2 linked regions of the Homo sapiens genome follow. The protein of the gene in region 1 purifies or fractionates together with the protein of each later gene. This does not show direct contact. Each region holds a gene or a part of one and is shown in the gene's direction. Other genes may lie near its edges.

Region 1 (3,500 bases):
AGTGTCTAGCATTAGATATTGCAGTAGCAACTAGGCGATCAGCCATTTGATTCCCTTCAGTTAAAGGTCCTGGAAGAGGTGTATGAGCCCTAATGTGAGTGATGTAAAAAGGGTGCATTCTACTCCTAAATGCTGTTTGCAATTGGGTAAATAAAGTCATCAGTTGTTCATCTGTATGAAGTCATAACTGAGCATTTTCAATTAATTGTATGGAATGAACCACATAGGAAGAATCAGAAATCACATTAATAGGCATATCAAAAGCAGTCAATACCTCAATTACAGCTAAAGCTCCACTTTTTGAGCTGAAGTATAGGGCGTGTGAAAAACTTTACCTTTTGATCCAGAATAAGAGGCTTTACCATTACAAGACCCATCTGTAAAAACATTCTCAGCACCTTCAGTTGGTTTAAATTTAGTTATTTTGGGGAGAATCCAATTAGTTAATTTCAAAAATTGAAATAATTTCATTTTAGGAAAATGATTATCAAGAATACCCACAAAGTCAGCTAAATGGGTTTGCCAAGTAAGACTATTTATAGAAGCTTGCTGTATTTGTGCCTTTGTGAGAGGGACAATAATTTTTCCAGGATCATATCCATGTAATTTAACAATCCGAATTCTCCCATTTCTTATCATCGTAGCCATTTGATCCAAATAAGGAGTTAGAGTCTGTGAATTAGTATGTGGAAGAAAAAGCCACTGTACAAAGTCTTGCTCTTATACAATAACACCAGTAAGTGAATGCTGAGTTGGAAAAATTAGCAAATCTAGGGTCTTTTTTGGATCTATTCTATTTATTTGAGATTTATGGATTTGCTTTTTGATTAGCTGCAGCTCTGCCTCAGCTTCTTTTGTTAATTGCTGAGGGCTAATGAGACTAGGATCTCCTCTAAGGATAGAAAATAGATTACTCAGGGCATAGGTGGGAATGCCTAGAGCAGGTCATATCCGATTAATGTCCCCTAGTAATTTTTGAAAGTCATTTAATGTTTTCAATTGATCCCTACGTATAGTTACTTTCTGTGGCACAATGGTAGTGTCATTTACTAAGGTCCCCAAGTAGGAGTAAGGAGTAGTAGTCTGAATTTTGTCAGGAGCTATATAATTAAACTGGCATGAGAAATCGAGTTTTGCAAGTGATCATAACATTGGAGTAATATTTCTTGAGTGGGGGCAGCACAAAGTATATTATCCATATAATGAATAATGTAACACTGTGAAAATTTTTTACGAGTAGGTTCAATTGCTTGCCCTTCATAAGTCTGGCAAATTTTTGAACTGTTTCACATGCCTTGTAGCAACACTTTCCAATACAAATGCTTTAGTATGCTGCAGGTTTTTTACTGCAGGAATTGTAAATGCAAACAGTTCACAGCCTTGCTCAGCTAAGGGGATAGTAAAGAAACAGTCTTTTAAATTTATGACTATTAAAGGCCAATTTTTTGGAATCATAGCAGAAGAAGGCAGTCCCGGCTGCAATGTCCCCATAGGTTGTATAACTGAATTAATGGCTCTTAAGTCAGTTAACATTCTGCATTTACCTGATTTTTTCTTAATTACAAAAACTGGAGAATTCCAAGGGGAAAATGTTGAGCTATGTGTCCTTTTTCTAATTGTTCAGCAACTAAGTCCTCTAAAGCCTCCAGTTTCTCTTTACTCAGCAGCCATTGTGCTATCCAAATTGGCTTATCTGTTAACCATTTTAAAGGTATATAGGTTCTGGAGGCTTAACAATGGCCACCATCAAAAATGATATCCTAAACCTTGGTGGGAACTTTGTCTTTCCGCTTGAAGCATTTCCTTCAAAGCTTGCAAATTTTTTCCTAGTCCCATACCAGGGACATACCCCATTTCATGCATCATATGTTGACTTTGAGGGCTGTATAATTATTCTGGAATTAGAACTTGTGATCCCCATTGTTGTAATAAATCTCTTCCCTATAAATTTATAGGTACAGAAGTTATAATTTTTTGTATAGTCCCAGGTTGTCCATTGGGCCCTTCACAATGCAAAATATAACTACTTTGATATACTTTAAGGGCTTTACCAACTCCAACTATGTTAAATTGAGCAGGTTGAATTGACCATGCAGATGGCCAGTGCTGTACAGAAATGATTGAAATGTCCGCTCCTGTATCTACCAAACTTTTAAATTTCTTTCCCTGAATAGTTATTTCACCAGTAGGATGTTTATCAGTAATTTGATTCACCCAATAAGCTGCTTTGCCTTGTTTATTTGTGCTTCCAAATCTTCCTGTTCATTTAATTTCACTTTTCCCCATTTCCACATATGGCATAATCAGGAGCTGTGCTATATGCTCTCCTGGCTCTGCTTTCCAGGGAACAGAAGTAGATATAACAATTTGAATTTCCCCTTTGTAATCTGAATCAATGACTCCTGTTTGTACTTGCACGCCTTTTAAATTTAAACTAGACCTACCTAGAAGTAATCCTACCATCCCCGCTGGCATCATCTGACTGGAGACAGCAACCTTCTTTAACAGTCCCATTACAAAAGGAGAACCTGTTCCATATGGATTAATAGCTTGTTTAAATTCTTTGAGTAATTTAAAAGGAAAAGGCTCAAATGTAGCTATAATATTTCCCTGTTGATCTACGGGGTATATTCTAACAGGGAACTGCTAAGCCTCTATATCACCCTCTCTTCTAACTTGCTGAATTCCTGGCTGAATAGAACTGAGAGTGGTCGCTCGAGGTGCTGCTCAGTCACTGGGGCGACTACTTTTTGCCCAGTGTCCTCTGGAAAAGAAAGATCTGGAGGATCAGGCTACTCTTTTGCTTCGAAATAATGAGGGGGTGCAGAAGGGTAGGGACAAACCTCTCCCTCCTTTGCCACTTTAGCTTTAGCTGGCAAACAAACCTGCTCTGTCACCTCTTCTGTTACTTCATTATACTTTCCTTCCTCCTCATCTTTAGTGTGAAAAGGTTCCAAGGTGGAATGAGCTAGAGCCCACACTTGCCCATTGTTACCCTGATGCTTCCGAGCTCCCCTTCTTACTCACCATGGGGATTGCTTAAGAGTACTCGGGTATCCTCCAGCTTTGTTCCACGTTTTCCAACCATTGCTCCAGCGAGCCTTCATCCTGGGTTTGAGTCCCCACGTTGGGCGCCACTTGCCGAGACCAGCTCGGTCGTGGAGACCCTAACCCAGCAGTGCTAGAGGAATTAAAGACACACACACAGAAACATAGAGTGTGGAGTGGGAAATCAGGGGATTCACAGCCTTCAGAGCTGAGAGCCCTGAACAGAGATTTACCCACGTATTTATTGACAGCAAGCCGGTGATAAGCATTATTTCTGTAGATTATAGATTAACTAAAAGTATTCCTTACAGGAAACAAAGGGATGGGCCAAAACAAAGCGATGGGCTCTGGCTAGATATCTGCAGCAGGAACACGTCCTTAAGGCACAGATCGCTCATGCTATTGTTTGTGGCTTAGGAATGCCTTAAGTGGTTTTCCATCTTGGGTGGACC
Region 2 (3,500 bases), on another chromosome or scaffold:
AAGCTCCGCTTCCCGGGTTCATGCCATTCTCCTGCCTCAGCCTCCCGAGTAGCTGGGACCACAGGCGCCCGCCACCGCGCCCGGCTAATTTTTTGTATTTTTAGTAGAGACGGGGTTTCACCTTGTTAGCCAGGATGGTCTCGATCTCCTGACCTCATGATCTACCCGCCTCGGCCTCCCAAAGTGCTGGGATTACAGGCGTGAGCCACCGCGCCCGGCCTTGCATTCTTTACCAAAGTGATTCAATCAGTTGTCTTTTTCTCAGCGTCCATGATAATAGTTTCTTTCTCTCTCTCTCTCTCTCTTTATTATATATTTGTATATGTTTCATTACAGGGATTTATAGTAAAACAAGTGTCTTCCCAACCTGATAATTCATTTTGGATAGGCCTTTCTCGGCCCCAGACTGAGGTACCATGGCTCTGGGAGGATGGATCAACATTCTCTTCTAACTTGTAAGTGTTTGGAGAGACAATGCTTCATCCTTTTTCTCAGAGAGGTTTCCATCTCATCTATGAAAACCTCTGTCGAGCAGCTAAGAACCTGATTTGCTCACCATATATGAGAAAGAGAGGGAGAAAGATATAGAAGAAGAGAAAGAGTGAACTAGGACAAGAGGAGAAAGATGAGGAGGACCTTAGAGTGAAAAAGAGTGAGGCCATCTAGTAGCATCAACACAGATATTCTTCTGGTTTTCTTACTAGGGAGGCATCGACATGTTTGAAGTTGTCCAGGCAAGGAGCAGTCACTGTCAGTCAGTGTAACTCCCCGGTTAAGAGCATGGGTTTTGAAGCCAGGCCTCAGTTTGGGTTAATGATTACCCCACTCACTGATTGTGTGACACTGGGGATAAGTCACTTTTCCTCTCTGAGTCCCATTTTCCATAAACAAGAATAGAAAGGTGCTCTTGGCCAGGTGTGGTGGCTCACACCCGTAATCCCAGCACTTTGGGAGGCCCAGGTGGGCGGATCACTTGAGGTCAGGAGTTTGAGACCAGCCTGACCAACATGGTGAAACCCCACCTCCACTAAAAATTTAGCCGGGTGTGGTGGCATTGCCTGAAATCCCAGCTACTCAGGAGGCTGAGGCAGGAGAATTGCTTGGACCTGGGAGACAGAGGTTGCAGTGAGCTGAGATTGCACCATTGCACTCCAGCCTGGATGACAGAGTGAGACTCCAGTGAGACTCCAACTCAAAAAAAAAAAAAAAAAAAAAGAAAAAAAGAAAGAGTGCTTTCCTCTTAGAATTGTGAGATGGGTATAAAAGTAAAATAATTTAGCACAGTGTCTTGTACATAGTTAATGTGTGAGACTTATTATTAAGTTAAAAAGCAACCACATTTTCACATTTTGCATTTTAGAAAGATATTTTAAACGTATTTCACATTTGCCTGATGATACATTATTCCTTATTATGTGGTTTCTGTCACTGCTGTTGTCATTCATTTGCTTTTTAATATCTGCAGAATATGAAATATGTCTCTTTTAAGTTCTTATTATTAGTGTGTGTGTGCACACCTGTGTGTGTTTTTTCATCTGTCTCAGTAGGAGTACCGTTCAATTTGGTTTTTCAAAGAAAGTAACTTTTGACTTTGTTGACTCTGTCTTTTTATTATTTCTTTCATTAACTTTTATTCTAATCTGTATTACTTCCTTCCATCTAATTTATTTTTATTTTATTTTGTTTTATTTTTTGAGACAGAGTCTCACTCTGTCACCCAGGCTGGAGTGCAATGGCGATCTCGGCTCACTGCCAGCTCCGCCTCCCGGGTTCACGCCATTCTCCTGCCTCAGCCTCCTGAGTAGCTGGGACTACAGGCGCTCACCACCATGCCCGGCTAATTTTTTGTATATTTAGTAGAGACGGGGTTTCACCGTGTTAGCCAGGATGGTCTCGATCTCCTGACCTAATTTATTTGTTTTAAATTTGCTATTCCATCTCAAACTTCTCGTATTGGGTGCTTGCCTCATGAATTTAAGCCTTCCTTTATCTCAAGTATGTAGACTTAAGGCTATAATTTTAATGTATTTTCATTGTCTTTCAGTTCAAAATACTTTCTGATTTCCACTGTGAGCTGCTCTTTGACCCAGGAGTTATTTAGAAATGCATTTCTTAATTTACAAACATATGTGTTTCTGGTTATCTCTTTGTTTTAGGTTTCAGGCTTAGTTCCACTGTGATCAGAGAACATGCTCCACGTGCTTGTAGTTCTGTGATTTTTACGTGCTTCTTCCTCTTTCCATATGAAAAGAATTGTGTTGAAATCTTCCGCTGCGATTCTACTTACAGTTCTGTAAACATTTTATTCGATGTGTTGAAGCCGTGTTATCAGGCACATAAAGATTTAGAATTGTTACTTTTTTTCCCCTTTCTTTCCTCCTTTTTGGACGATTTAACACTTTTTCTTATTCTGTTTTTTTTTTCTGTTCATTTGGAATGTGCTCTTTCATGTCTTTTACATCTCTTTTACTAATCTTTTAGTAGTTGTTCTAGGAATTACACATGTATACTTCACTCATCAAAGACTAACATTAACTGACATTTTTATGTTCTTCCTGACCAATATAAAAATCATAGAGCATTCCTTTACTCTGTTGACTCTCTCCTCAATTTATATGCTATTATATTAATGTATTTATTTTTATTTATTTATTTTTATTTTATCGCCCAGGCTGGAGTGCAGTGGGGCAATCTTGGCCTACTGCAACCTCTGCCTCCTGGGTTCAAGCGATTCTCCCACCTCAGCCTCCTGAGTAGCTGGGACTACAGCTATGCGTCACCAGCTGGGTGTGGTGGTGGACGCCTGTAATCCCAGCTACTCAGAGGTTGAGGCACCAGAATTGCTTCAACCCGGGAGACGGAGGTTGCAGTGAGCCGAGATCGCACCACTGCACTCCAGCCTGGGTGACTGAGCCAGACTCAGTATTAAAAAAAAAAAAAAAGAAAAAGAAAAAAGAAAAAACTAGCCCTTGGGCCGGGCGCGGGGACTCACGCCTATAATCCCAGCACTTTGGGAGGCCGAGGCAGGCGGATCACTTGATCTCTGGAGTTCGATACCAGCCTGGCCAAAATGGTGAAACCCCATCTCTACAAAAAAAAAAAAAAGATATAAAAATTAGACAGACAAGGTGGCGCACAGATTTATGCAGTTAGTATTCATTTCAATTTGCCCACATATTTATGATTTTAGTTGTTTATTTCTTTCTTCCTTTCCAACTGTACATTACAGGTATTTTTTCTTAAGACTGATATTTCCAGTAAGTATAGAATTAGAGGTTTGTTGTTTTTCCTCTCAGCCACTCAAATATATTATTCCACTGTTTTCTATTTTTTACTGTTGTTTTTGAGAGGTCATCTGTTTGAAGGTAATATATGTTTTAAAACTAATGTGTTTACTCAGCACTGAAAAATTCTCAGCCATACTTGCTTCATATTTTGCTTTTCCCCATCTTTTTTCCCTTCTCCTGGAATCCCAGTTACATTCATTACAGACCCATTGA

The links. Proteins that work in one complex are often made in the same cells at the same time.
Region 2: the proteins of TLR2 (region 1) and CLEC7A purify together in Homo sapiens (affinity purification with western blotting, with the first as the bait; one study listed by BioGRID). This does not show direct contact.

What each region holds. Positions count from the first base shown.
Region 1 is NC_000004.12:153,690,780-153,694,279, forward strand, and holds part of TLR2 (toll-like receptor 2 precursor), read left to right. Parts: intron 1-3,500. UniProt on the Homo sapiens protein: Cooperates with LY96 to mediate the innate immune response to bacterial lipoproteins and other microbial cell wall components. Cooperates with TLR1 or TLR6 to mediate the innate immune response to bacterial lipoproteins or lipopeptides.
Region 2 is NC_000012.12:10,120,200-10,123,699, reverse strand, and holds part of CLEC7A (C-type lectin domain family 7 member A), read left to right. Parts: intron 1-336; coding exon 337-455; intron 456-3,500.